Homo sapiens: one gene and its partner. The protein of the gene in region 1 binds, or shares a complex with, the protein of each later gene. Each region holds a gene or a part of one and is shown on either strand. Other genes may lie near its edges. A codon is read from its position in the direction of its gene.

Region 1 (16,016 bases):
TGACCTCCCCTCACCCTTGGGCTCTCACACCTGATTTCCCAAAACTCTCTCCCTCACTTCCTCTGCTCCAGCCACACTGGCCTCATCACTGAGGAGAGCAAAGATCACCTGGTGGCCACAAAGCAGACCATCTAGAGGCGACACTCCTCATCTGAGGAATTCAGAAGTAATTCGATTTCCCTATGATCTAAAGCTGGTATCTAGTACCCTGCTTCCTTCCCCAAAATGTATAAGAAACCAGAATTTCTATACATCTCCGAATGCATGCATGTCAAAACTCATTGTGCAACCCTTGCTGACATCAAAGCACCAAAATATCTACAAGTGTAACTTTTTTTTTTTTTTTTTTGAGACGGAGTTTTGCTCCTGTCGCCCAGGCTGGAGTGCAATGGCACGACCTCGGCTCACTGCAAACTCCGTCTCCCGGGTTCAAGTGATTCTCCTGCCTCGGCCTCCATTTATTATGACCGATGTGGCTAACATGGTCCAAATTACCCTTAAGCTCCCGCTTTAAGGTCCATAAATGCCCCTGAGGAAAATCCACTGTGGTTCACACAGTCCTCTCTTGCTGAGGCGCCGGCCACACTCTGATGCAGGGTTCTTTCTATCTTATAAAACTTTCCCTTTCAATCCTATACTGTTGTGGGCAAACTCTTCTTAACTACCTGCGAGCCAATCACTTACCATTGCCAGGGCTTTGACATCTCGCCCAGAAATTACTTTGCTTATTGTGGTAAAACATACACAACACAGTATTTATCATTTTAATCATTTGTAAGTGCACAATTCAGTGGCATTAAATACAGTCACAATGTTGTGTAACCAGCTCCACTATCTATACTCAAAACTTGTTCATCATCCCTTATAAAAACTCCGTACCCTTTAAACAATAACTCTCCCTCCCCTCACCCCGGTAGCCTTTATTTTATTGTCTGTCTCTATGAATTTGACTATTCTGGATATCTCACCATAAGTGGACTCATATAGTATTTGTCCTCCTGTGTCTGACTTATTTCACTAAATGTAATGAAAAAGATCCATCCATGTTGTATCAGATATCAAAATTCATTTCCTTTTTATGGTTGAATGATATTTTATTGTAAGCATAGACCATGCTTTGTTTATTCATTCATCTGTTTGAGAAAGAAAACCTTTTTCTGAGAAATGCTAACCACTTTAAATTATCAGGCCCAGAAAGGTATTTAAACTGTAACAGCAGGCCGGGCACGGTGGCACACACCTGTAATCCCAGCACTTTGGGAGGCCGAGGCGGGCGGATCACTTGAGGTCAGGAGCTCAAGACCAGCCTGGCCAGTATGGTGAAACCCCATCTCTACTAAAAATACGAAAATTAGCCAGGCATGGTGATGCACACCTGTGATCCCAGCTACTCAGGAGGCTGAGGCATGAGAATCACTTGAACCTGGGAGGTGGAGGTTGCAGTGAGCTGAGATCGTGCCACTGCACTCCAGCCTGGGCGACAGAGTGAGATTCCGTCTCAAAAAAAAAAAAATTAAATTAAATTAAATTAAATTAAATTAAATGGAACAGCAGACTGGGTTCGGTGGCTCACGCCTGTAATCCTAGCACTTTGGGAGGCTGAGGTGGGCAGATTGCTTGAGCTCAGGAGTTCGAGACCAACCGGGCAACGTGGTGAAACCCTATCTCTACAAAAAATGGACAAATTAGCCAGGCATGGTGGTAGGCGCCTGTAGTCCCAGCTACTCGGGAGGCTGAGGTGGGAAGATCACCTGAGCCCAGGATGTCGAGGCTTCAGTGAACCATGATCACGCCACTGCACTCCAGCATGGGCAACAGAGTGAGACCCTGTCTCAAATAAATAAATAAAAATTAAAAAATAAAATGTAACAGCAGTCGCATCTCACTCCTCCTTGAGCTAAATAATTACCTCTTGAACCCACTTGGCTGTGCCAGCTCTGACACCAAGTAGCCATCAAATGCCATACACCCTATAGTTCAACAATATGTAGCCAATCATTAGCCAATGTTATTTCTGTAAACCAATGAGAATTCCTGATGAACAACTTCTGTAATTGTAAGCTCTCCGGATTTGTCCTTTTTCTCTCTCTCTCTTTTTTGAGACAGGGTTTCAGTCTGTTGCCCAGGTTGGACTGTAATAGCATGATCATAGTTCACTGTAACCTCAAACACCTGGGCTTGGCCGGGCACAGTGGTTCACACCTGTAATCCCAACAGTTTGGGAGGCCAAGACGGGAGGATCACCTGAGGTCGGGAGTTCAAGACCAACCTGACCAACATGGTGAAACCCCGTCTCTACTAAAAATACTAAAAAATTAGCTGGGTGTGGTGGCACATGCATGTAATCCCAGCTACTTGGGAGGCTGAGGCAGGAGAATTGCTTGAACCTGGGAGGTGGAGGTTGCAGTGAGCCGAGATCATGCCATTGCATTCCAGCCTGGGCAACAAGAGCGAAAACTCTGTCTCAAAAAATAATAATAATAATAATAATAAACACCTGGGCTCAAGTGATCCTCCTGCCTCAGCCTCCCAAGTAGCTGGGACTACAGGTGCACATCTCCATGCCCAGCTAATTTTCTATTTTTTTTTTTGAGACAGAGTCTCGGCTGTGTTGCCCAGGCTGGAGTGCAGTGGCATGATCTCGACTCACTGCAGCCTCTGCCTCCCAGGTTCAAATGAGTCTCCTGCCTCAGCCTCCCCAGTAGCTGGGATTACAGGCATGAGCCACCACGCCTGGCTAATTTTTGTATCTTAGTAGAGATGGGGTTTTGCCATGTTGGCCAGGCTGGTCTCGAACTCCTGACCTCAGGTGATCCACCCATCTCAGCCTCCCAAAGTCCTGGGATTACAGCTGTGAGCCACCATGCCCAGCCGCAGCTAATTTTCTAACTCAATTTTTTTTTTTTTTTTTTTTTTTTTAGAAATGGGGTTTCATTATATTGCCAAGGCTGGTCTCAAACTCCTGGCCGCAAGCAATCCTTCTGCCTCAGCCTCCCAAGTAGTTGGGATTACAGGCATGAGCCACTGTGCCCAGCCTCATCCTTTTTCTCATTAAAAACTTGAGCCTCTTGTTTGTTCTCCAGAGCATTTGCCAAGGCAACTTGGAAGTGTGCAGTCCCAGGGTGCAGTCCTCAACCTTTGCATTTGACTAAACTCTCTTTAAGCTACATTCTGAGCTAGTGACATAGCAAGACCTCACCTCTAAAATTTTTTCTTCATTAGCTAGGTGTGGGGGTGCATATCTGTAGTCCCAGCTACTCAGGAAGCTAAGGTGGGACGATTGCACCACTGCACTCCAGCCTGAGTGACAGAGTGAGACCCTGTCTCTAAAAACAAACAAACAAAAACAACAACAACAACAAAAAGACCGCATGCTGACTCTTTTGATTATTCTATGTTGACATGTTGATGGACATTTGAGGTGTCTCTATCGTTTGGCTATTGTGAATAATACTGCTATGGACATGGGTGTTGGCCTCATTACTTTTTCTGCAAACTGCCCTGCACACTTCCACATGAGGACTTTTCAGTGGCTGTTCCCTCTGCCTGGAATGCTCTTCCCCAAGGGATCCACATGGCTCACTTTCTTCAAGTCTTTTCTCAAATGTTGCCTTCTCAATGAGGCCTACCCTGACCACGCTATAAGTTCTGCAACCTGGCACTCCTTGTTCTCTTTACTCTGTTTTTTTTTTCTATAGTACTTACCATTTTCTAATGTGCTATATAACATACTTATTTAGTATATTAATTGTTTAGGATCTGTGTCTCTCCATGCGAATGTCATCTCCCTGAGGGCAAGGATCAATGTCTGTTTTGTTTATCTCAGGCACTCATGTAGGTAGGTGCTTAATACATAGTTTGTTGAATGAACTTAAAATCACAAGCCTAAGTCATTTGTTGAGTTACAGATTTTAAACTGGAGTCATGAGATGAATGTGTTAGATGCTCTAATATGCCAAACACTCTTAAATCCCTCAAATACTTAAAATACCATATACACACAGATTGTTTCAAATCTGGGTTAAAATTGAGGTTAACTTCTCAACTGGCTGAAGGTGCGTATCTCTGAAGATGTAAGTCAGGGAATGAGATCTGAAGCTGCAGACAACCAGCGTGACTTTTTCTCGTGACCTGAGGACCATGCTGTGCTCTTGATTCTCCTCCTCCCTGCACTTAGGGCCACCGTGCAGGTTGTATGCAGCATAGTTGGGAGTAGGGTGGGGGTGGGGGTAAGTGGATGCTGAAATCCAGTATGTGCCCCATTTGCCAAATGCAGGGCTTGAGTGCCAGCACAAGGTTTTGTCCATGGGAGAGAAGGGAGTGGTGCCTCTTTCCCATTTGCCACAGGCCCCAATGGGCTTGGAGTGGTCCTGCTTTGTCAAAGACAATGCCAGCCCGCTACCTGCAAACTGATTGGCTTTGAAGCTCACATCTCCCAAGTCAATTCCATGTTTCCTGCTTTTCAGGTTTGCTGAGGCTGTTCCCCCACCCACTATTGGATTTAATGAATCTAGTTGCTATGTGATTCTATTCTGAGTTCTTTTTGGAGACATCCCATCTGGCAAGGCCATGACTCTCAAAGCTATTTCTATGACACCAGATTGGATCCTCACACCCTCATGCTATTGTCTGACTCAGCGCAACACAACAGCCAAGGCATGTGAATTACACTGCTCTTCCTTTTTCTTTATTTAACAAACATTTACATAGTCCTTCCCCTGTGCCAGGCGCTGTTCTAACACTTTCCAAATATTAAGCTATTTAACCCTCCAACCTAAGAGGTGAGTACTATAATTATCTCATTTCACAGATAAGGAAACTGAAGCTCAGAGAATTTAAGTGACCCGCCCAAGGTTCACGTGGCCACAGGTGGCAGGGCTGGGATTCAAACCCAGGTCGACTTTTGCTCCATCTTCGCTTTTTTCTTGTCATTCTTTCCCTCCCTCTTCCTCTTCCTTTCTCCCCTCGTTTTCTCTTCCTTCTTCATTCCCTGCTTCCTTCCTGACAGGGCCACAGCAACTGCCACCTGCTTCCCTCAGACACTGCCCAGCCCAGCACACCCTCCCTCCATCCTCCAGGCAAGGCTCTGCCAGGCTGTCTGTCATCACCCTCATTTCTCTGTGCCAGCAGACAGGGTGTGCCAACCTCAATGCCCTCAACCCGCTGGCTCAGACCACAGCAGCTGGCAGAGGCCTGGGAGCTGGGGCCAGGCCAGCCTGGAGGGCAGTTGGCCCTTCGGGAAGTTACATGATGTGCCCAGACCTTCCCCAATGACGTTTATGTTATCCATATCATAATTTATTTTCTTGCCCAAGGATTTTAATGTGGTGCCAAGATGTCTTGTGCTGCTTGGGATAAACTTAGACAAATAAGGGCCAAGAGAAAGTGAGAGAGTGAGATAGAGAGAGGGATAGAGAGACAGAAAGATAGAGAACCCTAAGGCAGGGGGCAAGGGTGAAGAGACCCAGCTGTCCACGATTCTCTCACTAGAAGTGGCTGCCTACAGTTTTGGGAACAAGGAGGAGTGGCTTGATATCATCCCTCTATGTGTGAATGAACTTTTCTGTGAGTTTCTCAAAGGACTCATGTTCTTCTCCATAACTATGCCTTTGCATATGCTGTTCCCCTGGCCTGGAAGGCCCTTCCCAATCGTTTCTACCCAAGGACCATGCTCACGTGCTGCCCGCTTCTGGGAAACCTTTCGTGAATTCCTGCAGGGGACTCTGCTGGTCTCTCCTCTCACACCAGAGCATCTGTGTGCACGTGCACATTTCTGTTTTGAACTAATTGGCTTACATCCCCTCTCTATGCCCAGTACAGGAGTGGTGCCTGGAGGAAGCTGAGGAGGTACAGGAAGTCTATCAGCACTTCACAGAGGAAGGAAAAGTGGGGATTGTGAAAGCCTCAAGGCAAGGTGACTCTGGGTTCAAGGCTCACCAGCTGGTGACCCTGGGCAAGTCACCTAACCTCTCTGTGCCTCAGCTTCCCTTCTATAGAATGGGAATATTATTACATTTTGTATAGTTTGTACATCATTGGGTTGTGTGAGAATGAAATGAGTTAAGATATGGAAAGCACATAGAACAGTGTCTGGCATGTGCAAATCCCTCAGTAAATATTAGTCATTTTTATTATTATCAAACTGGAAATAGTCATAGAGTTGCCTAAAGGATTAAAGAAAGTACTTTTGATGAAGTGTGAAGCATATAGGAAGGTCTTTGTCATTATCATTAACAGTATCGGCCAGGCGCGGTGGCTCACGCCTGTAATCCGAGCACTTTGGGAGGCCGAGGCGGATGGATCACGAGGTCAGGAGATTGAGACCATCCTGGCTAACACAGTGAAACCCTGTCCCTACTAAAAATACAAAAAATTAGCCGGGCGTGGTGGCGGGTGCCTGTAGTCCCAGCTACTCGGGAGGCTGAGGCAGGAGAATGGCATAAACCTGGGAGGCGGAGCTTGCAGTGAGCTGAGATCACGCCACTGCACTCCAGCCTGGGGGACAGAGTGAGACTCTGCCTCAAAAAAAAAAAAAAAAAAAAAAGAAAAAAGAAAAAAAAGAAACAATATCAAGAGCAGTGCCCAATCCACTGTGATTTCCAGAATTAACTTACAAGTTGAGGCCACATAGCTATTGCTTTTTTGAGCAAATGAAATGATGAATATGATATTTTTTTCTTTTCTTTTCTTTCTTTTTTTTTTTTTTTTTTGAGGTGGAGTTTCACTTTGTTGCCCAGGCTGGAGTGCAGTGGGACAATCTTGGCTCCCTGCAAACTCTGCCTCCTGGGTTCAAGCAATTCTTCTGCCTCAACCTCCTGAGTAGCTGGGATTACAGGCGAGCGACACCACACTCGACTAATGTTTTATATGTTTGGTAGAGACAGAGTTTCACCATGTTGGCCAGGCTGGTCTTGAACTCCTGACCTCAAGTTATCTGCCCACCTCGGCCTCCCAAAGTGCTGGGATTACAGGCGTGAGCCACCGCGCCCGACCAAATATGTTTTTTGTAAATGATAAAATGACAAGCAAAAATCATGATGGTTTAATAAACGTTCATTGCCCTACCCAAAACATAGTCCTGCCTGTAAGTGTGGCTCGTTTTGGGACCTCGGTGGCTTCAGACTTTCAAAAGGGTGGTTTTACTCCCAAAGTCCTGGCTTTTGGGACCTAAGGCAGAAGCTAGTGATGGAGACGGGGAGCTTGGCATGTTGCTTTGCTTCTGACAGGTTAGGAAGCCTCTTCCTTGTCTCCATCAGTAAACAAAGGGAAGTCATTATTCGCTCCTGCAGATGTTGTAACGTTAAAAAAAAATTGGCCATCAGATTGAGAGAAAAGGCTAAGTCACTGGAGCCAATTTCTTTTGTACAGATGAGAGAACTCAGGCGAAGAAAGGGGAAAGGACCTGCTCAAAGCCACAAAGTAACGTACAGCCAGGGCTAGAACCCAGATCTCTAGACCCCTAGTTCACTGCCCTTTCACTGGTGATTGCTTTCCAAAAACTCAATGCTCTCCAAGTCCGGAGCCCCATGTCCTTAAATGGAAGGTGATGGAGGCTCAGTGCTCCTGTCCAGAGACCAGGTGGGGAAGACTTTTTGGAGGCAGGGAAAGTGAGATGGGCAAAGCCAATATGCAGGACACCCTCCTACCTACCTACCTACCGTGCAATTACCTCAATCTTCACAACACTGTGAAGCGGAGACTATCATTATCATCCCCATTTTACTTCTGTAAAAGGGGGCCAGTAACACTGCAGGGATGTAAACGGAGGCCCAGGATCGTCCCATCGTCCCATCGTTCTCTGCAGCTCTTGCTCCTAGAGGCTGGCTATTGCTAAGGTCCAGAACGTGTGCAGGGCACAAAGCAAATAGGTCTCCGGGACTGGGATGAGGTTTTGCCTCTCTATACCCCGTGGTACCCAGCACAGCGTAGGCACGGGGTAGGTCCTGGCTGATCAATCGTCCTGCCTTTTGAAAATGCCATCTTTTCCACAGGCTTGGCCATGCTGTACACCCCGGGATACACCTTCTCATACCAAGTCTCCACTCTCATGTGGTTCTATTCTTGGACTTTCCATCGCCTCCACGTCCCCTGAATATTTTTTCTGTCTCTAGCTCTCAGGAACTTTGATTCCTTGGCTGCCTTATTCTTTGTGCACTTTGGTCAAGAGCCAAAGATCTACTGGTCTCAGCTTTCCCACCTGTACAAGGCGGTGCAGAGCCATTGGCTGGCTTTGACGCGCTATTAGTTCGAATTCGGGACGTAAGAACCGCACAAAATTACCGAGCCCCACTTTCTCTCCGCTCCCCACCATCCCCTCCCTCGTTCGGAAAGCGCCTGCGCAGAAGCCGCCGGCCCGCCCTCCACTATTCGAATCCGTATCCGCCCTTTTCGCGCCCTCGAAGACTCGGCGCTCGACAGGCGTCTACCAGCTTGTCTTCCGGTTTCGTCGCCGCCGCAGGCGCACCTGCCGAGTTCCGAGCGACCGATGGAGATGGCGGCTGCGGCTGAGTGACGGACGGTGGAGGCCCAGAGCCCGGGCCTGAAGGGGGGGACAAACCTGGGTGCCCGCAGGAGCCCGGCAGGGTACATACAGAGGGTCAGGCCCAGTCTGGGGGGCGGGGACACGACTCCTCCAGAACGGAGACGGGCGGGCCGTGTGTGGTTGTGGTGGGTGTGACGTGAGAGGTGGGAGATGGGGCTTTCAGGCCGTGCGTTTCGCTTGTGTGTGCCTTTGATGATTGGGCTCTGTGTGGTTGTGCGGTTACGCGGGGCGTATACACTTGGGTTTGGTTGTGCAGCTGTGGGTGGAGTGGGTGGGTGCTTGTCTCCCGAGCGGTTGTGTTTGATTCTCTGGTTGTGTAAAGCTGAAGCGTTTGTATTCTGAGTTCGTGTGGAGATGTTCGGAGTGTTTTGTGTGGTGTCTGTGCGATGTGTGACGTTGTCATGTCTGCTTCACGGGATTGAGTCGTTCGTGTTGTGTGTGGTCATGCGATGTGTGTATAATCATGTTAGTTATGTGGGTTGTGGTTGCGATCGTGAGGCCGGGTTGAGTGCGGCTGTGGGATGTGTCGTCGATGCGGCATGTGGCGGGGTGACATTCATGCTGGATGTACGGCTGCAGAACATGTAGCTATATTTATTTTTTTTATTTTTATTTTTTTTACTTTTTACGTGATTTAGAGTGCGAGGGGCTTGCTTATGTGTTCAGTTATGGTTGTGGGGTCCAATTCGGTGGTTGTGTTAGATTTCTTTATGGTGTATGCTTAGTTATATGATTTTGGAGTTCATTCATTTCTTCGTTCATTCATGGAGCTTTATTGTGCTGCTTCATTGTGTGTGCCAGGTACTGTGCTAAACCCTGGGGAGACGGCGAAGTGGAAAACATATAGAGTCTGTGCCCTCCCAGATTTTACAGTCTTACTTGGTCACTTCACGTATGTACCTGCGGTTATAAATTGAGATGAGTGCTGTGAAGGAGAAGTCCATTCTGATGCTCTGAGTAAGAGGCATTTCTTTTGAGGAAGTGAGGTTTGGGTTTGGGCTGAGGCGTGAAGGGTGGTTGTGTGGCATGGATGTGGTGGGCTTTGTGTTATTTGTGGTCGTTAGGGGTGAGTGCATGGGAAGAAAGGGAGCTGTCAGAGTCAGCATCAGATGAACCACTGGCTGGGGAGGGAACAGGCCAGACCTAGGGCTGCTATATTCCAGTGGAAAAGTTATGAAGTCACTGGGTTTCTTAACTAGAGGGAAAAAATAGGGACCTGGTGTCTCATTTGTTTATTTTCTGAGTTGCTGCCACCCTTCAGCTTTGAGGACCAGGCAGTCCCTCCTCGGTGGTCTTCTACAGTCCATCCAAAGCTGAGGGTCACACATCTCCCCTCACTATATACTGTGGCTTGTATCCCCAGGTTCTTGGGGAGAAATTTCTCTGCTTTTGTGGAATGGTTTTGTCTCAATTTCTCTTGTGACTGGGTGTCTTGATGAGGTGACATTGGAAGTGACTTTGCCATGAGCCAGTAAGAAAGAGAATGTAACTTATTAAGCCCTGAAGTGTTTAGGCCCCAAATCAATTTATTTATTTATTTATTTATTTATTTACTTTTTTGAGATGGAGTTTCGCTCTTGTTGCCCAGGCTGGAGTGCAATGGCATGATCTCGGCTCACTGCAACTTCCGCCTCCTGGGTTCAAGCAGTTCTCCTGCCTCAGTACCCCCACTAGCTGGGATTACAGGCGCCTACCACCACACCCGGCAAATTTTTGTATTTTTAGTAGAGATAGGGTTTCACCATATTGGCCAGGCTGGTCTCGAACTCCTGACCTCAGGTGATCCGCCTGCCTTGGCCTCCCAAAGTGCTGGGATTACAGGCTTGAGCCACCATGCCTGGCCAGCCTTTTATTTTTGAAGCAGTGAGAACATCAGGTTTGCTACTTAACTGTCACTTAATGGCTTATAAGATCTGTCAGGGTGCAGTGGCTCACATCTGTAATCTCAGCAGTTTGGGGGGGCTCAGGCAGGAGGATTGCCTGAGGCCAGGAGTTAGAGACCTGCCTGGGAAACATAGCAAGAACCTGTCTCTATAAATAATTTAAAAACTAGCTGGGTGTGGTGGCATACTCCTGTAGTCCCAGCTTCTTAGGAGGCTGAGGCAGGAGGATCACTTGAACCGAGAAGGTCGAGGCTGTTGTGAGCAATTATAGCTCACTGGGTGACAGAGCAAGATGCTGTCTCTTAAAAAGGAAAATATAGTACGCCCATTAGAGATAAGTGCTCTACAAATATAAAATAGATTTTTTCTTTTTGACTAGTAGGTTTCTATTGTTTCTCTTTAACTGATGTTAGGATTTTTGATTTTTTGTATGTTTTTATGGCAGATACTATATCTTTTTCATCTTTGCATTTCTAACACAGGTGTCTTACAAGTATCAAGAACTTACTATATGTGGTTGAATAAACAATCAAGGTAAAGAGCATCAAGTAAAAACTTCTGCTTGTTGATAAGTACTTCAGACATTCCCCCAGTGGCTGAAGTGGCATATGAATTATGAAGTTGGATCATTTGGAATGAATGTAAGAGAATTGCCAAGGTATTGTTTGCTTATTTCAAGAATCTGTGCTTCCCACTTCATTGAGTTTTTGTTCTCCAGTGATGTTTTCACATTTTAGGTTTTGCAGCTTGCTTGGTCTAAGGATTTGAGAAAGAGTTTGTTTTCTCAAACTTGCACTGAATAAACATTAAGTACCCCATTGAACTGTGAAAAGAATGAAGAAAATCCTCAATTGCTACCAGTTTGCCTGAATTGGCTTTTTTCCCTTCTTCTTTTCTTTCTTAGGGCTCCTCCTACTCCAGAGAGGAAACCTCATCCAGGGCCATGAAGCCACTTCCTCACCATCTGTGTGCTGCTTAAGCTAATGCTGCGGGAACCATGGTTCCTTGGGAGGAATCAAGCTGACTCTTGGCATGAGATTCCTGCCTTCCTAGGGTTGAGAGCGGCACTGCCATGGCTTCTCTGGACGACCCAGGGGAAGTGAGGGAGGGCTTCCTCTGCCCTCTGTGCCTGAAGGATCTGCAGTCTTTCTATCAGCTTCACTCACATTACGAGGAAGAACACTCAGGGGAAGACCGTGATGTCAAAGGGCAAATTAAAAGTAAGAGGCGAGGACCTTGCCTATCCCCTGCTGTCGTTGAGAGCTTTAACTCACGGGATAGTTCTCATCAGCTTTGGTGTTGCCACAGGAATATGATAATAGTAGTAGCAAACAGATGACTAGTGTTTGTCATGTGCCAGGCGTTTTCAGAGTTTCCCTGTTTATTAATTTCATTTAATCCTCACAATAACTGTGTGGCTGTAAGCCACATTTCGAACCAGACACAGAGAGATTAGATAACTTGTCTGAAGCCACTCAGAGAAACAATCTGACTTTGAGTCTAGTAAATGTAATTGCTGTGATCTGGCTTGACTGTTCTTTAACCACCAGCCTAACAGGGTTTGGAGAGGAATTTCTTTCCTTTGCTATGATGATGGAGGCACATTATGCACCCATTTTACCTGTCACAAATTTAAGACTTCCCACCATCCTTCCTTCCCCAATTGGTATCTTGCCCTCTATAGCCCAGAAAAAGGAAGGTCATAGTCGAAGAACAAAACAACCTAAAAACCTTGGTTTTTGAGCTTCCAAGAGCTCAGGTTTGAGAGAGTTGTGGAAAGAATTTTTCAAAGGTACTTTTCACTATACATATGTTTATTGTATTTCCTGGACATCAAATTCTAACCTCCAGATAAGATGCTGCTCCTCTGGGCGGGCACAGTGGCTCACGCCTCTATTCGCAGCACTTTGGGAGGCCAGAGTGGGCAGATCACTTGAGCTCAGGAGTTCAAGACCAGCCTGGGCAACATGGCGAAACCCCGTCTCACAAAAAAAATTAAAAAAAAAAACAACTAGCCGGGCGTGATGGTGCACGCCTGTAGTCCCAGCTACTCAGGAGACTGAGGTAGGAGGATCACTTGAGCCCAGGGAGGTCAAGGCTGTAGTGAGCGATGATCATGCCACTGCACTCGCACCTGGGCAACAGAGAGAGAGACACACACACACACAAACACACACACGCCAAAGATGCTGCTCCTCTGGAACTTATTTTGTAGTTATTCAGCTAACTTGCTTCTCACAGCTGGCAGCATTTCTGAAGGCCTTGAGATTAAAGAGTTCTGGATGTTGTATTCAAAGTCTTTATTGGGAGAGAAAGAAAGGAATGATCATGTATTTCTAAGTGGACTTCAGCTTTCAGACAGGTGAATCATATGCACTTTGTAATCAGATATTTGTCCCTAGAGTCTCACTCTATCTCACTTTTCTGTTCAGTAAAAAAGAGTTTCTAAAAGCATAAACAGTTATAACTTCTATCCAAAAACAACAAAGGCAAACATTTCTGAAATCCTGAGGGCTTTGGTGGATGAGGTGGCTTCTGGCTGTAGAGGCTATAGAACAGAGCCAAAACTATTAGGAGGGAAAAAAATGCTGTGCTTTATAGTTTTTAGAGTTTCTTTCACAGACATTATTGTTTCATCTGACTCTCCTAACAACTCTGCAAGAAGGTGATTGGTCTCATTTTACAGATAGTAAGTGAAGTGAGGCTCAAGAGATGTTGAGTTACTTATCCACGGTCACACAGGAATTGGCAGAGCTAGGCCTGGAACGTAGGTCTTCTGTCATCTGTAAATCCAGTGCTGCCCTTTGCACGTGACATCACTGAGGGTGAGAGGCCCCGTGTTCCAATCACAACATGCATTGCAGCTTCCTGGGGGAAATGAAGCAAAAACAAAACTAAAAAACCTGATTATGTAAGTTTCCTTTGGACAACCGAAGAGCTTCCATCATTTTCAACTAGCTTCCAGTCTTGGTGTCAGCTGAACTAAGTCCTATACAATGCCATTGCTCAACCTGGTGATACCAGTGGGTAGAGAGGTTAGAGAATGTTCCCGGATTCCTACAGTGACCCTTTTTTAAGAGGAAAAATGTTTAAGGTTATTTAGAGAATACAGATATGGGAATCTATTTAAGGAATACTAAATAGAATAGAAATTTTGTGCCTTGTGAAAGAAACTTGAAAGGATCCTTGGCTGGGCACAGTGGCTCACATCTGTAATCCCAGCACTTTGGGAGGCCATGGCGGGAGGATCGCTTCAGCTTAGGAGTTTGATACCAGCCTGGGCAACATAGATCCTGTCCAAAAATAAAAAAAAATTTTTTTTAATTAGCTGGGCATGATGACATGCATTTGTAGTCCTAGCCACTTGGAAGGCTGAGGCAGAAGGATCCCTTGAGCCCGGAAGGTTGAAGCTGCAGTGAGCCATGATTATGCCACTGCACTCCAGCCTGGGCAGCAGAGTGAAACTCTGACTCAAAAACAAAAAAACAAAATAAAGTTACTTCAGCCGGGTGCGGTGGCTCATGCCTGTAATTCTAGTACTTTGGGAGGCCAAGGCAGGAGGATTGCTTGAGCCCAGGAGACCAGACTGGGCAACATAGCGAGACCATTTCTACAAAAAAATCATTTAAAAAAATTAGCCAGTCATAGTGGCACGCACTCGTAGTCCCAATTACCCAGGAGGCTGAGGTGGGAGGATCGCTTCAGCTCAGGAGATCAAGGCTGTTACATTCTAGCCTGAGCAACAGAGTGAAACTGTCTCAAAAAAAAGAAAGAAAAGATCCTCTTGGTTTTTCCCTTTATTTCCCACCCTGCCTTACCCCCGACATCTCTACCTCTAGTACTATTAATGATCATGTCTTTAGTTAGAAAGGAATTCTTGATTATGTTGCAGTTTTCTGCATTTCAGAATCAGGAAAGTAAAGTTTTAAGGATTGACATGAAAGGTTTTTTGAAAAGCCCTTTAGAAAGCAGATTACGTCTCCATTTGGTCTTTTGATTCTTAGAAATGTTATGACATGGTTAGTTTTGGGCAAGTGAAAAGTTAAAGCCAAAAGAGTGAACCTTAGTATTAGGTTTTGGGGGCAGTTCAAAAAAGAAAAGATAGATTAGTCATTAGTAAAAAGTTAGTGGGTTCGGGGCCCAGTCCTGGTTCAGCTCCAGTCTAGCCCATTTTCAGTAAGTAGAAGAAAAGATAGCTGAAAATTGACTGTGGCTTCTTGCTTTGTTAGTGTTTTTTAAAATATATGGGATTATTTTTAATTGGCCTTCTCTGGAAGGGCTATGTCCTTTCTGGGAACATTGCCAGGCAGTTTTTCTATCTCCTAAAAGTGGTTAAATGGTATAGATTGCCTGTTTAACCTGATACTTTAGTCTTGTTTGCAAAAATGAATTGTTACTTGCTAACTCACATTCCTGTTTGCTAGACCCTTTGTTCACATCAGGCAGTTTTCTCTCCCCTGTTACTAGAAAAGACTGCTTTAGGCCAGGGACAGTGGCTCATGCCTGCAATCCCAGCACTTTGGGAGGCCGAGGTGGGCAGATCATCTGAGGCCAGGAGTTTAAGACCAGCCTGGCCAATGTGGTGAAACCCCATCTCTACTAAAAAAAATACAAAAATTAGCTGGGTGTGTTGGCACGTGCCTGTAATTTCAGCTACTCGGGAGGCTGAGGCAGGAGCATCCCTTGAACCCCTGGAAGGCAGAGGTTGCAGTGAGCTGAGATTGCTGCCATTGCATTCCAGCTTGGGCAACAAGAGTGAAACTCTGTCTCAAAAAAAAACAAACAAACAAACAAAAAAAACCCACTTTAGTGCATTTTAAAGGATGTCCTTTTGTTTTAGTATTTTTCCAGTTTGGACAAAGCTGTCCCACAGTGACCAATAATCAGGAAGTTTGCTTATTGGCTTGACCGTCTTAAAAAAAAAAAAAGACAAGTGTATTCTTATCAATCTCACCCTCAGCCTGCGAACCTGGGCAACATCTCTACAAAAAAATGTTTTATAAAATAATTTACCTAGTCATGGTGGCGCACACCTATAGTCCCAGCTACTTGAGAGACTGAGGCGAGAGGATCGCTTGAGCCCAAGAGATCAAGGCTGCAGTGAGCTATGATCAGCCACTGCACTCCAGCCTGGGTGACAGAGCAAGACCCTGTCTCTAAAAAATAAATAATTAAAAAGTAAAAGTAATGATACCATTTTATATTCAGTCTGATATTTTCTACTAGATTCTGGTGGAAGAAAGGGATAGCAGTCATCCAAGATTAAAGAACATTCATGAGAGAGCGTCTTAGAACTGAGAATTCTTCCCGCCCCACACCAGCTGATTGTTCAGTTTAACAGGTGGTTCTCTGCACCAGCACAGGTGGCAGAACCCATGTTCTGCAGAGGCATAGTTTGTGAATCAGGACTAGCGGGGGAGAGCTGGAGCTCTCATTTCAGGCACATGAGGTGTCTACTTCCAGCCCTGCTGTTACCTGTAAGCTCTGTGATCTTGGGTGAAGCAAGTTCTTCCCTGTCTTTGATGTCGTTTCCTCATTTGTAAGTAGGGCTATCACCTGCCTTATAACATTGTAAGCATGAACTGGCATAA
Region 2 (16,277 bases), on another chromosome or scaffold:
TAAAGTGGAAAACTACTCCCATCCTGGCCCAGGAGGCTCTTGTATCCTCATGAACCCAGGTTCCAGGTGCTGTGGAAGCTGCCTAGGGACAGTGGTGCAGATGCTGTGTGGCAAGCTGTAAGATAGTCAGCACAGCTGCTCAAGTCACTACGACGAAGAACTTTGGAATGAAACCCAATTTGCTTACCTTTTAATCATGTAAACTGGCCCTAATTTAACTTTCCTTTGCATCTTTCAGGGTAAACAGTAACTTAAACCATGTTAAGAAGTCAGCTCAAAAGACTCTGAAACCCAATAGATCCAGGAGGTAAGGATGGGGAAGAATTAAAAATGGACTCTAACTTTATCTTCTAGGCAAACACAGGAAAAATAGAAGATGGGGCATAGGCGTGAATAATTTGTTGGGTTTGGGACGTACTGCATTCAGATGCCTGTAGGCCACCCAGGTGTAGTTAGGTAGCTGAAAAAAAGATCTGTAGTTTGAGTGAAGGATGTGACTAGAAATATAGATGTTACAGTCATCAGAGCATCAGCAGTAAAGTCACAGGCATGGATTGGAATACTTTACAGTTCAAATGACCATGAGAAAGAATATTTTGTTTTTTCAAAAAACCATGCTTTCAAAGTTCTCGAGCATGGAGTCATTACATGCCTCCCTGGACCAACAGCACCTGCACGGCCCGGGAGCTGGTCAGATGCCGATCTCCCTCACCCTCCAAGTCAGGATCTACATTTTAATACACCAGGGGACTCGTGTGCACATTAGTTTGATAAGCCACTGGTGCAATGTTTCCCAAACTTTGGTACTTGAAATGTTCACCAGCTTTCAGTGAATGAGAAAAAGAAAATGACAAACATGTATAATCATATATTTATTCAACTTGAAGAAATGTCCTTTGTTTTGGTGTTACAGGATTCCTTTGTTGACATGTTTACCTGTTCCATCTTTCATGAAATTAAGGTAAAGGGCAATTGGGGTGATTTCCCTAAGAGCAAGTTATTTCATACTTTATTGGAACCAGGTGACTTTGAAATGCTATTTATACACGGGCACGGTGGCTCACGCCTGTAAACCCAGCACTCTGGGAGGCTGAGAAGGGCGGGATCATGAGGTCAGGAGTTTGGAGGCCAGCCTGACCAACATAGTGAAACCCCGCCTCTACTAAAAATACAAAAAAAAAATTAGCTAGGTGTGGTGGCGGGCGCCTGTAGTCCCAGTTACTTGGGAGGCTGAGGCAGGAGAATCGCTTGAACCCGGGAGGTGGAGGTTGCAGTGAGCCGAGATTGTGCCACTGCACTCCAGCCTGGGCAACAGTGAGAGACTCTATCTCAAAGAAAAAAAAAAAAAAAAAAAAGGAAAAGAAATGCTATTTCCTTTACCAAGGATATCTTCTTCACTTCATCTTGCCTTGTCATCCTAAATTTCTCATGAATCGTATTTTGATGAGCAAAGCCTATATTTTAGTTTCTTAGGGCTGCCATCACAAAGAACCACAAACTGGGAAGCTTAAAACAACAGAAGTTTATTGTCTCACAGTTCTGGAGGCCGGGCATTCAAATTCAGAGTGCTGACAGGGTCAAGGTCTCTCTGAAGGCTCAAGGGAAGGATCCCTCCTTGCCTCTCTCTAGCTTCTGGTGGTTGCCAGCCACCCCTTGGCACTCCTTGGCTGGTAGATGCATCCCTCCAATCTTGGCCTCCATCCTCACATCTCTTTCTCTCTGAATGCATTTGTGTCTAAGTTTCCCTCATCTTATAATGACACCAGTCACTGAATTAGGGCTCACCATAATTCAGTACGATGACCTCATCTTAACTTGATTACATCTGCAAAGACCTTATTTCCAAATGCGGTCACATTCACAGGTACTAGGGGTTAGGACTTAAACAGATATTTTGGGGAACACAATTCAACCTGAACAGCCTAAAATGATACATTTTTAAGGAAAATATTCTGATAATTCTCAAAATTATATGGCAAATACTGTAATACTGTGCTGTTTTCAAAATGAAGCACAAAATAAAAACATTAAGAGTATATTTTAATAAAAATGAGCATAGAACCAGCAATTTGAATTGTATTCTTCTGTTTCATTTGTTATTCCCATTGTAGACGGCATAAACTCTAATATATGTAGAGATTTTGTATTAGATTTTTCCTCACTCTCGAACTGCCCCAGCACTTAATTTCAAAAGAAATTCCTGGCATTTTCCCACTACATATACTTTTCAGCTCCTTTCTGAACATCGCTGCTTAGCATCAAAATTACTTTCAGCCAATTTGTAATCTCCCAGGTCTCAGATGGCTGAAGCAGAGTTCCTTGGGAAGTCCCAAGCCATACTAACTGGCCAGGGCTTTAAGAATGTAGTGTATCTAATGGCATTTGGTAGAACTGTTTCATATTCAGACTAAGGGTTTCATCCAAAACCTAAGATTTCAATTTGTTTCACGATATTACATAAAGTACAGTATTCATGTGGTGACTTCAAAGCAACAAAAATGTTCAACACTACTCAGTCTATGGAAGGTGAAATACTGTTTTAATATGTTAAAAAGCATATTAAATGAACACATTAATGAGAGGTAGCTCATAAACAGTACATTTCAGCAGGGCACAGTGGCTCATGCCTGTGATCTCAACATTTTGGGAGGTGGAGGCACGAGGATCACTTGAGCCCAGGAGTTCGGGATGAGACTGAGCAACAGACAGAGACCTCGTCTCTACAAAAAAAATTAAAAAAAAAAAAAAAATTAGCCAGGTGTGGTGGCATGCACCTGTGGTCCCAGCTACTCAGGAGGCTGAAGTGGGAGGATCACTTGAGATGGGGAGATGGAGGTGGCAGTGAGCCGTGATTGTGTCACTGCACTCCAGCATGGGTGACAGAGCGAGGTCCTGTCTCAAAAAAAAAAAAAAAAAAAAAGGGAAACAAAAACCCAGTACATTTCATTCCTCATCTCTCTGTCAAGCTACACAGAGCCTCCTTTTACAGAAGAGCAAATAAGCACAGAGTACAAAGGAGTTTAAAGGTTAGGCAAACATTCCTTCACCAGCTCAGAGGCAAATGTCCAGAAGAGAGCCTGACTGTTTCACTTTTAAGGAACAATGCTGTATAAATATGGCCACTGATACGTCAAAGTGACAGCCTAGGACTTGGTTCTAGGTGACTTTTACTTCAGCTTGGCAAACTTCAACTGTCCTGCTTGCTCCTTCTAAAACTCATTTTCTTTTTTTGAGACAGAGTCTCACTCTGTTGCCCAGGATGGAGTGCAGTGGCACAATCTTGGCTCACTGTAAACTTCACCTCCTGGGTTCAAGCAATTCTCATGCCTCAGCCTCCCAAGTAGCCGGGACTACAAGCGTACCACCATGCCCAGGTAATTTTTTGTATTTTTAATAGGGCTGGGGTTTCGCCATGTTGGCCAGGCTGGTATTGAACTCCTGAGCTCAAGTGATCCGCCCAACTCGGCCTTCCAAAGTGCTGGGATTACAGGCGTGAGCCATCACCTCTGGCCTCATTTTCTATTTATTAGTTTCTACTAGTTTTCGATTAATTTCCTCTATTAGAAGAAAAGATTCAATTCAGAGTTGCAAAGTAAAAACATACTTGGAAGTTACCATGAAATAAGAATACTAATGGTCAAAGCCTTATGATCAGAATGTAATCAATCTGTGAAGCTCAAAAGTTCAGTTAACTGTGTCTGAAGTGGAGATGCCAAAGATAAGCTCTATTTTATCAGTTGTTATCATGCGTATACGAAAAATGAAACATAAAAGCTCTATCTCCTGAACTCTTCCAATCCTTTCTTACTGATTCATGACCCCCACTTGCTTTTCTTATTTGGACATTCCACCCTTCCCCTAGTGCTCCGTGCTCCTTACTCAGGTTAAAGAAACTAAGCCTGGGCTAAAGAGCACTTGAAAATAAAGAAGTGCAAAGATGTAACCAAAAATTGCTAAAGACCATGTTTTCCTTACAACATTTCTGACTGTGGTTCTCTACAGGAAGAACCAGACCACTGCCATTTGCAGAAACATTTGCAAACACTTGTCCTGATGAAGGCATCGACTTACTGGAGGATTTCCTACGCCTTCTAGGAACAGATGTCATGCCCCTTTGTCACCAAGAACAGGGCAGTACCAGTCACAGGAGTCACTCACTGAAGGTGGACCAAATGCACTGTGACCCCAGCATGGAAGCCCTTCCAAAAGTTCCCATTTTTTCTTACAAGACAAACTGACGCCTTCCTCAAGACCCTCTCCTCTCTGCCTCCTCATCCACCTCTCCAGCGTGGTACTCAAAACACACCCTTCTTGAGTTACCCTTCCCACAGGCCTGAGATGTTCTGCGTGCTGCCTGGTTAATGCCTCCCTGACACCCCTGTCTGGGTCATCTTTCTTTCTAACACACTTTCACGGACCACACTCCTTCAGAACTCTTGCCTGGTTTTTAATTATTCACTCATTAGTATCACAATTGGATTAATACTGCATTCCCTCAATAGACTACGCTCCATGAGACCAGAGCCGTGTCTGCTGTGTTTCTGCAGGATGTACAGCCCTCCCAGCACGGTGCTCGCTTCCCTAATGCCATTCCACAGTATTTGTTGCAGAGAAGGAAGCAGCATGCCAGGACAGATGGAGACAGGACTAATTTGGCTTGAGGTATGTAATTTTGAACTTGAGCCTCTCTCTGGGACTGTAAAACTCCAAATCAAAGTCTTAATCTGAGAATACATACATCTGAAAGAGTGATTAGGGACTGGTAAACATCTATTAATATTCAACTCTGATACAAAGTACAAGTTGTTTATTCTTACCACGCAAGGCCAAAAAAGGGGAGAAAAAAAAAAAAGCACACAGCATATGCACTGGGAAAGCTTTCGCTTATTCAAAACAGTATTTGTCAAGCACCTCCAGGTCTGGGTGCTGCAGGGGAAACAAAGATTAAACAGCCAGGGCTTTGCTTCCAAGGTGCTTACGGTCTTAAGAAGGAGACAAGACATGTTTATAAATAGCCAAAATGCAACCCAGAAAAGGCTAAAAAACACTGAGAGGGAGGGAGAAATAAACGAAGCAAGAGGTCTCCGGAGGAAGAGATGAATGAATTAGCCTATTAATAACTCCTCACTGTAATCCCAATGTAAAGCAAGGAATTCCAAACCAGGAAAGGTCAAACTGAAGTATTTGAGGAACACAGGCGTCGCCCTAAGCCCTTCACAGGCTCGCTGGGGATAATATCGCAGCTGAAACCGAACATCAAGCTGGCTTTTCAAACCTTCAGTTATTTACATTAGACTGAGAGGGGAAAAGCGCTAAGAGTGCAAGAGCAGAGAAAGAGCAAGAGGAAACTTGAAAAGGCGGATCACGCCAATGCGCTGTGCACAGCGCCCCCGCGCCCCGCGCACCCGCTACCCCACCCGAGCCCCCAGCGGCCCGCGTCCCCCATCCCGGTCCCAAGCCCAGACACCTCCGAGATCCGTCCCCCGGCTCCGGCCGGCGCCACCGCCACCCTCAAGACCCCCGCAGCCCAGGCCCGGCCCCGCGCCACCGACGCCCCCCGCGGCCCGACCCGCGCGCCCCGCCAGCCCGGGCCTCGTACCGTAGGTTTCGGACATGGCCGTCTGCGACATCTTGGGAGCGGCGCCGCCTCTCGCCGGGTCACCGGCTGCACTCGCCCGCGGTCCGCCGGCGCGTCTCGGTGGGGAAGGACCTGGGGCGGGGGACCGGAGGAGGGAGGGGCCCGACCGGTCCCCACGGCAACCGCCGGTCTCCCAGCGGCTGCGGCCCAGCCGGACTCCAGCTCCGCGCAGGCGCAGGGCCCTCCACCCTCCGTCCGGCCGCGACCGCGAGGAGGAAGAGGAGATGGGCTACGCGAGGCCCGGCCCACCCCGCGTTCGCGCGTGCGCACGGGGAGGCCGGGGCGGGGCGCGTGAGGACTTCGGCGCGCGCCGGAAGCACGTGCGCGGGCTGGGCGCTCTGGCGGTGTGCGCTGAGGTGGGCAGAGCGGCAGGTGGGGGCGTTGGGGGCTGAGTCCCGATTTCCCTGAGGGAGGGTCGGGTAGAGGCGGGCGGTGGGCAGGTTTGGGGGTGACAGAGGGCTGGGGACAGTGGGGTCCAGTTGCCGGACAGAGGAGGAAGGTGCCCGCACTGGGGAGGAAAGCAGTCCATTTGCCAAATTGGCCCGTCTCAGTTAAGACGTTGTCTTCGGTCATCATCTGCGGCTGTCAGCCAGGAAAAAACTTCCCTGACGCTGTTACGATGGAGGCCAGAACTTGGTTAATGTGTAACAAGGAGGCAGTAGGCCCCAGGTGTCCAGCCAGAGGCCGCCCTGTGAATGGGAGGCAGGTTCATTTACCCGTTGGGAAGCTAAGCTTTCACTCCAAACTGCCGGGCCCTCTTGGATGGAGCTGAGCGGGTGTGGGCGGAATGACAGAAGCGCAAGATGCCCAGGTGCTAAAAGGTCATCGCAAGACTACAGGCTGCAGCCTCTCCACATCCCATTTTAGAGGGTTCTGGATTACGGTTGAGAAGTATCTCCCGGCCCTCAGCTGGGGATGTGTTTCCAAATTTAGGAGTTTTTTTAATTTTTATTTTTTAACAGGGTCTGGCACTGTCAGCCCAGCCCAACCGATTCTCCTGCCTCAGCCTCCTGAGTAGCTGGGGCTAGGGGCTCACACGACCACACCGCGCCAATTTTTAAATTTTTTGTAGAGATGGGGTCTTGTTATGTTGCCCAGGCTGGTCTTGAACTCCTGAGTTCAAGCATCCTCCCTCCTTGGCCTCCCAAATTGCTGGGATTACAGGCATGAGTCATCTCACCTGGCCTTGGATAGTTTGGTTTCAGAAGCAAAACTGAGTTAGAATCCCCTTCTGTGGGAAATGTAGAGATAAACATTTATGGGAAAGAGAATTTTGGTTGAGGATTTGGCCCATCTGAGCTTGATCAGGGCCACATAGCGCCTCATAGTTCCCAACCTTGTTCACAATAGGTAGTCGAATGCTCAAAATATCCTTGGCTAAGCTCCCAAGTGACCTGGACTGTGTGGAAAATGCCAGTACATACTTTTGTGTGTGTGTGTGTGAGTCAGTTTGGCTCCATCCTCCACATAAATTGGCATCAGAGCTTCCCTCTTCCCCAGTGGCTATTTGGGTCGGTATTTTTCTCTTGTCTCCGATCCTAATAACAAATAAATGCAGTTTTTTCTAAATCACAGAGAAGGCCCCATGGTGAAAAGTTGTGACAGCTGTAATTCCTAAAACTGTTTTATATATATTTCTTGTTCAGTGGCTCAGATCATTTGTTGCTTTCTTGTTTGTCTCTCTGCATGTCGTGTTTGATTTAGGCTCCTGAGTATAACAGATTGGTTCTGATTAAAACCATTTCAGAGGAAAGACAGTGATCCCAGGAAGCGGGAAGAAAACAGCATCACCTGAAGTTATTCCTATTCGTTAGATTTGTTTTCTTCCTGCGAAAAACTGCTATGTACAAGAAAGAAGTCAGTGAGCTGCAGTGATAGTTAGCATTATTGACTGAAACTGGACCAGAGATCCCTGAAACCTGGACAAGGTGGTAGAAATACAAATTATGCTGCCATTTCAAAGCTGTGGGCAGTTTTCTACTTTGTGGAAAATGAAGACTTAGGTAGGCCTTTGGGAAAGACGATTTGTTTTGGAAAAACCACCCAAAGGGATCATTTGGTTTGCAAATGTAACTGCAGTATCACAACTGGAAGAAGAAATATACAAGGGCGAGGTTTGAAGGAGCCCTTCAGTATCCTTGGATGATACTGTGGAAGATTCTTTGCATCTCAGTAACTTTGGATCTTTGAAGATCCAAGAAAATAAATTTCTTCAAAATATTTTTAGAGACTGCTTTGATTCTGAGGCACTGCTGATTATATGGAAGAAAAAAATATTGGAAGATTAATTTGTGGTTTTCTCCAGTTATCGTCTCCCTTCTCTTTGGGGGAGGTTTGTGACGCAGTAAAAACAGATATACAAAAGCCTAGGCATGTTAGAGATTTGCCTAAGGGAAATGTAATTATGAAGAAGGATTTTTTCAAGCTGAAACTAGATCCCACTTTTTTCCAGGTCAGTGGGTCCTTCAAGTATCTGGTACTTTCCTTCCTGCTTCCTGACAATGTTAAAGAATGTGGCATGACCTTACATTTAATGCCCAACGTGAGGAGCCCTGGGGCTTGATGCATGAGATTCTTGGAGCTAGGCCTGGTGGAGGGCACTGGTCACAGCCTCGGTGGAATGGTGACTTTCTTTGGTAACTGGAATTGAAGAAAATGAGTGGACTTGTGTCTGAGCACTTGGGAACTCAGCAATCCCTGGGTGTTACCTTGAGAAGGAGCCAAATTCCAGACATACAAGTGGAGACTTGAAAATGGAAGCTCAATTCCACACCCAGGCTGGTGGAGACTATGACATATAACTCACATCTTCAAGAAAGTAGACACCTCAGAGGTCACTGGGCCACTTTACCTTCCACTGTCAAAACTATGTCCATGATCAGATACCTCTGTTGCTAGGGAATATTCAGTCAGAATGGGCTAGATTAACTGCAGTAATGCAGATCTCTCAACCCATTTATGACTTACGCAGCAAAGTTCCTCGCTCAGACTACCTGTCCACTCCCACGAGCAGAGACTTGCTCATGGGCCCTCCTAGACCCAGGCTGACCGAGTGTGTTTTATCTAAATGCATCTCCACAATCACTCAGGTAGGAGTGGCTATGCATTAGGACTGATTGTGCATTAGTTAGAGAAGCACTTACCAGGAATTGCTATAAGAACTTCTATTTACATTTCATGGGCCAAAGCAAGTCATGTGGCAACACTTAATTTCAAAGAGGACAGGAAATGCAATATTGTTATGTCCCTGAAAGAAAGGAGAAGAGAAAGTCTATGGAAAGACATTATGACTACCACTGGAATTTTCACCTGTCCAGGCAGCTCATCGTGCTTTTATTTGAAACAATTTTATTGAAGTATAGGCATAACTGCACATACGTATGTATTTATTTTATTTTATTTTTTGAGATGTAGTCTTGCTTTGTTGCACAGGCTGGAATGCAGTGGCGTGATCTCAGCTCACTATGACCTCTGCCTCCCGGGTTCAAGTGATTCTCCTGCCTCAGACTTCTGAGTAGCTGGGATTACAGCCACGCGCCACCACACCTGGCTAATTTTTGTATTTTTAGTAGAGACGGGGTTTCGCCTTGTTGGCTGTGCTGGTCTCAAACTCCTGACCTCAGGTAATCCGCCTGCCTCAGCCTCCCAAAGTGCTGGGCAGCCTCCCAAAGTGCTGGGATTACAGGCGTGAGCCACCGCACCTGGCCTGCACATATTTAAAGTGTACATTTTGACAATTTTTAATATATATGTACGCTTGTGCTTGCTGCTCCAGGGGACCGCTATTTCTAGGCCTTTTCAGTGGACAGAGGCATTTTTGTGATTGTTTTATCTCATTTGTCACTTAGGAAGAATAACTTCTTGTGAGGTTTAGTGGTGGTTTTGGGGTTGATAGTATAGGTCTTCATCACAGTCCACCTCCAAGTGATAATACACTACTTTATACAGAGTATAAGAAACTGACAACCATTTGCTTCCATCCTCCCCCAGCATCTGTGCTGGGGATGTTGTACTTCTACATATGTTGTACACCCACATACATTGTTATTGTTTTTACTTAATAAGCTACTAATTCTCTGTCTCTCTTTTCCTTTTAATTGTGGTAAAATAGACATAAAATGTAGCAACTCAGCCATCTTGAAATGTACAGTGGCATTAAATATATTCCCATTGTTGTGCAACCATCACCACCATCCATCTCTAGAACGCTTCATGTTGCAAACCTGAAACTCTGTACCTGTTTAACAACAACTCCCCATTCACTTCTCCCCACAGTGCCTGGCAACCACCATTTTACTTCCTGTCTAGGAATTGGCTTCTCTAGGTACAGTACCTCATATAAATGGAGTCATACAGTATTTGTCTTTTCCTCACTGTCGTATTTCACTTAGCATAATGTCCTCAAGATTCATCTGTAACATTGTAGAATGTGTCAGAATTTCCTTCCTGTTTAAGACTGAATACTATTCAATACTTTGTACATATATACTGCATTTTCAGCCAATTCTTTTCAATAGATTTAAACAATAAGAAAAAAGTGTTTTATATTTACTCACATAGTTACCATATCTAAGACTCCTTATTCTCTTGTATAGATTAGATTTCCATGGTCTCATTTCCCTTTTGTCTGAAGGGCTTTCCTTGACAGATCTTGAAGTGTAGATCTCCTGGTGACTAATTCTTTCAGCTTTTATATGTCCAAAAAAGTCTTTATTTCACTTCTGTGTTTGAAGCTATTTTTGCTCAATTTCGATTTTTAGGGTTTTCAATTTTTTTTTTCTAACATGAAGATACTGTTTCAGTGTTTTCTGGCTCATTTTGTTTCCGATAAGGAGTGAACTGCCATTCTTATCTTTATTTCTTTTATGCAACGTGTCTTTTATCTCTGCTTGGTTTTAAGATTTCATCTGTATCACTAGTCTGAAGCAATTTGATTATGATGTGCCTTGGTGTTGATTTTCTTTAAAGTTCTTGTCCTTGAGTTTCACTGAACTTCTCTGGTCTTTGAGTTTATAGTTGCTATCAGATTTGGAGTTTTTTCAGCCATTATTTCTTCAAATATTTTTTTCTGCCCCTGCCTCTCCTTTCCTTTGGCGATTCTACTACACAAATATTAGATCACTTGAATTTGTTTCACAGCTAACTCAGGCTTTGTTCATTTTTTGTCAGTCTTTTTTCTTTCTGTTTTTCATTTTCGTGTAATTTCCATTGCTGTGTCTTTAAATTCACTCATCTTTCCTATAGTATCTAATCTGCTGTCAATTCCATCCAGCGTATTTTTCGTCTCAGGCATTGCCATTTCACCTGCAGAAGTTTCACTCGGTGTCTGGACCTGCATCTGGGTCCTCTGGTTTCCGTGTTTAGTGCTCAAGCATATGGAACATGTGTCATTTCTACTAACTTTATCACCTAAGTAATTTCTGAGATTGTTTATATTGATTGGCTTTTCTCTTCATTGTAGGTAATATTTTCCTACTTTACAAGCCAGATAATTTTTTATTGAATGCCAGACATTGAGAAGTTTACTTTGAGATACATATAATGTTTATTTTTATGAATATTTTTGAGCTTTGTTCTGGGGTGCAGGTAAGTTCCTTGGAAAGAGCTTGATGCTTCAGGTCATGTTTTTACACTTTTTTTAGGGGGTGGGCCCTGAGCAGCATTCTACTCAACAAATCCTTGAGTTGTGAAGGTTTTCACCATGATTGGCGGAATTCGGAGTTCCTCTGGGCCGTGCGTGAGTGCTGGGGATTGTTTTCTCTAATATTCGCTGGTGATTCTTTATCTGGCATGGGGTAGGAGTGCCTACCACAGTAGGAATTTGAAATGCAGGTATTTCTTCACTTGCCTGCACTGCTCAGTAAAGACTTGAAGGGAACCCTCTGCAAACCTCTGGCACTCTCTCTCTCTCTGTACAGCTCTGCACAACCCCCAGCTCAGGGAGTGCTGCTTCTTCCTCCTGTCTGACTCCAGAGCTCAGTCTGTGGCAGTCTTTCTCTGCAGTCACTTACTTGCTCATTCATTTCATCTGGTCTTAAGGCTTTCAATATGATCTAAAGCTGATGATTCCTTAATTTCTAGCTTGCCTAGGCTTCTATGTACAATTGCTTACTTGATACGTCCACTTGAATGAATGCCTATTAGGTTTCTTAATACTAACGAAATAAAAACCAAGGCCGGGCACGGTGGCTCACGGCTGTAATCCCAGCACTTTGGGAGGCCAAGGCGGGTGAATCACAAGATCAGGAGTTCAAGACCAGGCTGGACAATATGGTGAAACCCTGTCTCTACTAAAAAATACAAAAAATTAGCCAGGCATGGTGGCGCGCACATGTAGTCTCATCTACTCAGGAGGCCGAGGCAGGAGAATCGCTGGAACCTGGGAGGCAGAGGTTGCAGTGAGCCGAGATCATGCCACTGCACTCCAGCCCGGGCGACAGAGCAGATTCCGTCTCAAAATAAACAAACAAACAAACAAACCAAACATCCAGATTTCTTGACCAAACCAGTGCCTTCTGCAATCTTTTGTATCTCAGTAAATGGCAGTTTGCCAGGTGTATTAGTCAGGGTCGGGGTTCTCTAGAGGGACAGAACTAATAGGATACATGTATATATGAAAGGGAGTTTATTGAGGAGAATTGACTCACACGATCACAAGCTAAAGTCCCATGATTGGCTGTCTGCAAGCTGAGGTGCAAGGAAGCCAGTGGTGGATCAGTCCAAGTCCCAAAACCTCAAAAATAGGGAAGCCGACAGTGTAGCCTTCCATCTGTGGGCAAAGGCCCAAGAGGCCCTGGCAAACCACTGGTGTAAGTCTAAGAGTCCGAAAGCTGAAGAACTGGGAGGCTGATGTTCAAGGGCAGGAAGCATCCAGTACGGCAGAAAGATGAAGGCCAGAAGACTCAGCAAGTCTGCTTTATTCTAGCCGCTCTGGTAGCCGATTAGATGGGGCCCACCCAGATTGAGGGTGGGTCAGCCTCTTCCGGTCCACTGACTCAAATGTTAATCTCCTTTGGGAACACCCTCACGACACACCTAGGAACAATACTGTGAATCCTTCAATCAAGTTGACACTTAATATTAAACATCACACCAGGGCCAAACCTTGGGAGTCCTGCCTGACTTCTCACACCCACATTTGATCCATCAGCAAGTCCTACAGGCTCTACTGTCAAGAGCATCCAGAATCTGCTTTTGCTACTCCCACTGCCTCACCCCCGAATCCTGGCCACCTCCTGGACCAGCCCGCCTCACCTCTCTCCTGCCTTTTGCAGCTACCTCCCCTTCCTGCTTCTATGCTTGTCTCCCTGTGTTGTCTTTTCTCAACACAGCTGCTAGAGCAATCCTATTAAAATGTAAACAAACAAAACCAAAAATAAATGACAATTCTCCTTTAAAACAGCCAGTGTTGCCTGTAATCCTAGGACTTTGGGAGGCCAAGGTGGGTGGATCATTTGAGGTCAGGAGTTCGAGACCAGCCTGGCCAACATGGTGTAACCCCCCAACCTCTACTAAAAATACAAAAATTAGCCGGGCGTGGTGGGGGCGCCTGTAGTTCCAGCTACCTGGGAGGCTAAGGCAGGAGAATCGCTTGAACCCGGGAGACAGAGTTTGCAGGGACCCGAGATCATGTCACTGCACTCCAGCCTGTGCGACAGAGCGAGACTCTATCTCAAACAAAACAAAACAAAACAGCAACAAAAAAACAGCCAGTGTTGGGGGGAGGAGGGGACTATAGGTCCCATCAGGCCACCCTCTGCTCAAAGCCTCATCTCACTCACAATGGCCTATAAAGTCATCCATGGTCTGCTCCCCCAACCCCTCATTCTCTTGACTCTGATCCTACAGGCCTTCTTGCTGGTTCTTATACACATCAAGCAGCCTTTGGCCTCAGGGCCTTTGCATGTGCTTTTTTCCTCTTCCTGGAATGCTCTTGTCCCAGATGTCTACATGGCCCTCACAGCCCACATGTGTTCTGCTCACAGGGCACCTCATGAGGAGGGCTTTTCTTTTCTTATATGAAATAGCAACCCCTCTCCATTTCATCCCCCCAGCACTTCATTTGCCCCCTATTTTGTTCTATGCCCCACTCCATAGCATTTAACATCACTTAAAATACATATCCTTTATTAGTTTATTGTGTGCTCCCTCTCTAGATTATAAGTTCTATAAGGGCAGGAAATGCTTTGGCCTTGTTCCCTGCTCCATCCCCATGCCTAAAATAGTATTTGGCACATAGTAAACCCTCAATCACTCGGAAGATGTTGAATGAGTGAATGAATGGAACAAAACTCAGCAGCTCTCTATGGATTTAATGTAATGAACTTAATTGTAAATATGTTGATTTATGGGAAATTTAAAAGTGGGGGTCTCTGGCCGGGCTCTGTGCTCAGACCTATAATCCCAGCACTTTGGGAGGCCGAGGCAGGCGGATCACTTGAGGTCAGGAATTTGAGACCAGCCTGGTCAACATAGTAAAACCCTGTCTCTATTAAAACTACAAAAATTAGCTGGATGTGGTGGTGCATGCCTGCAATCCCAGCTATTTGGGAGGCTGAGGCAGGAGAATCTTTTGACCCCGGAGGTAGAGGCTGCAGTGAGCCAAGACCACACCACTGTACTCCAGCCTGGGTGACAGAGAGAGATTCCATCTCAAAAAAAAAAAAAAAATAGTGGATCTCTTATATGCTACCAAGTGATTGTGGGAAGGCTATAATAAAACTAAAGTATCGTCTAATACTAGTATAATTTATTGAGTACTTGATAAACACTAGGTATAGTGCTAAGTGCTTTACATGTATTAGAAAACCTAATTCTTACAACAGGTTTATAAGGGAGGTATTATCCCATTTTACAGATGAAGAAACAAAGGCCCAAATGGATTACATATTTTGTCCAGTTTCCACAGCTAGTATGTATCAATGTTGGAATTGCTATCTCAAACCAAACCAAACTGACACCTCTCCTTTTAAAAATGCAATATAAAAAGCCCAAAACACAGAGCTATGATTTCAAAAGGCATTGAATTATTTAATGCCTAAGGAAAACAGCGCTCTGTTGAGCCAGGCCCTGTTCTGGGTGCTTTATGTCACTTCCCTTGATCCTTACACCACCTGACAAGGTTGCTCTTCTTATCTTTATATTATAGTCAAGGGTGACATCCAAACCAGGGCTCTTTATTGCACTGTGATGCCAAATAAGTATGGAGACACAGATGAGAAAGGGTTTGTGGTAGAAAACATTCCCAGAGCACTTCTATAAATTCAGCATAAGCTCAGGTTAGCTTTAAGATAGAAAATAGTCCTGAAGTTATCATCCAGTTCTCTAATATGAAACTCAAATCTTTGAGTCTGTCATCCTCCAAAGCACAGAGATTTTGTTTATCTAACAGGAATATGCTGCAAATAACAGTCTACAACATTAAGCCAAGGCTAGAGTTGTGGATAGAGTTCTTGAGTTCAGTGATACGATAATTTCCTACCTTCATCTTCTCATTTGAAAGTTACCAGCAAATCTTCCATCAGTTCTAATGTGATGCATCTCTGCTTATTTCTGCATTTAACAGCATTGATACCCAGGGATTATTCATTCGAGTCATTTAAATTCTTGTTTTGTATTCAGAAAAAGAGGATTTTCTGGTTCCTCTTTTCTTTTTAATTATATTTATGTGTTTCCTCCATATTCTGATAAAAGTACCATAGAATTATCTTTTATTTACTTATTTATTTTCGATACTGTGTTTCAAATTAAATGGCCTGTTTTCAGCCTGGTTTCTTATTTAAAAGATAGTTTTCACAAGAACTGCTTAAAAAAAAATTCTCCGTGGCTCACGCCTGTAATCCCAGCACTTTGAGAGGCCGAGGCAGGCAGATCACGAGGTCAGGAGTTCGAGACCAGCCTGGCTAACATAGTGAAACCCCGTCTCTACTAAAACTACAAAAATTAGCTGGGCATGGTGGCAGATGCCTATGATCCCAGCTACTTGGGAGGCTGAGGCAGGGGAATTGCTTGAACCCAGGAGGCAGAGGTTGCGATGAGCCAAGATTGCGCCACTGCACTCCAGCCTGAGGAACAGAGTGAGACACCGTCTCAAAAATAAAATAAAATAAAATAAAATAATCCCTGAACACCACCAACTGAAATTTTCTTTTATGGTTAATTTTAACATTTTAATCAGCTTTACTGGGGTATAATTTTACATACAACAAAATTCACCAATTTTAAGTGTACAATGAGTTTTGACAAATGTACACGGTCATGCGACAACTTCAACCTCGTCCCAGTATGGAACTTTTCTGTCACCCCCAAGAGTTCCTTTATGCCTTTTTCCAGCCCTTTGTGGACTCATTTTGAGACGTTTTGGTAACGGATTATTGGCTTTCACATGGGAAGATGTAACCTACTCCAGGAAACTAAGGTGGGGGTTTCCCCACTGCACAGACCACCCACCATACGCTCCACCTCTAGACCTCTCAGCAGCCTGTCTTTCTTGCCCTTTCAAACATCTTCATTTGTGTTCCACCAGACAGTAGCCAATACCATTTCCATCTATCAGCTTGGTGAAATGTGCCCTTTAATGGAAGACTAATGAGGCCTAATAGAAAAAGCTTCCTGGCTTTATTGATGTTCCCTGTGACTT

Evidence for each region.
Region 2: the proteins of RBSN (region 1) and RAB4A are in contact, whole or in part, in a crystal structure (PDB 1Z0K), measured with the Homo sapiens proteins. Residues at the interface, in NP_001289307.1 of Homo sapiens: Glu441, Gly442, Trp443, Leu444, Pro445, Ser447, Glu454, Pro458, Leu459, Gln461, Gln462, Asn465, Ile466, Phe469, Asp480, Glu481, Thr484, Leu485, Asn488, Leu492, Glu495, Gln499; in NP_004569.2 of Homo sapiens: Tyr10 (codon at 5,603), Leu30, His31, Ile34, Glu35, Ile46, Gly47, Val48, Glu49, Phe50, Gly51, Ser52, Lys53, Lys63, Gln65, Trp67, Arg74, Phe75, Ser77, Val78, Ser81, Tyr82.

What each region holds. Positions count from the first base shown.
Region 1 is NC_000003.12:15,091,602-15,107,617, reverse strand, and holds the start of RBSN (rabenosyn-5), read left to right. Parts: upstream 1-8,469; 5' UTR 8,470-8,583; exon of another isoform or gene 8,584-8,596; intron 8,597-9,343; 5' UTR 9,344-9,499; intron 9,500-10,907; 5' UTR 10,908-11,083; intron 11,084-11,329; 5' UTR 11,330-11,497; coding exon 11,498-11,645; exon of another isoform or gene 11,646-11,947; intron 11,948-16,016. UniProt on the Homo sapiens protein: Rab4/Rab5 effector protein acting in early endocytic membrane fusion and membrane trafficking of recycling endosomes. Required for endosome fusion either homotypically or with clathrin coated vesicles.
Region 2 is NC_000001.11:229,260,693-229,276,969, reverse strand, and holds the start of RAB4A (ras-related protein Rab-4A), read right to left. Parts: upstream 5,860-16,277; 5' UTR 5,631-5,859; coding exon 5,600-5,630; intron 1-5,599. UniProt on the Homo sapiens protein: The small GTPases Rab are key regulators of intracellular membrane trafficking, from the formation of transport vesicles to their fusion with membranes.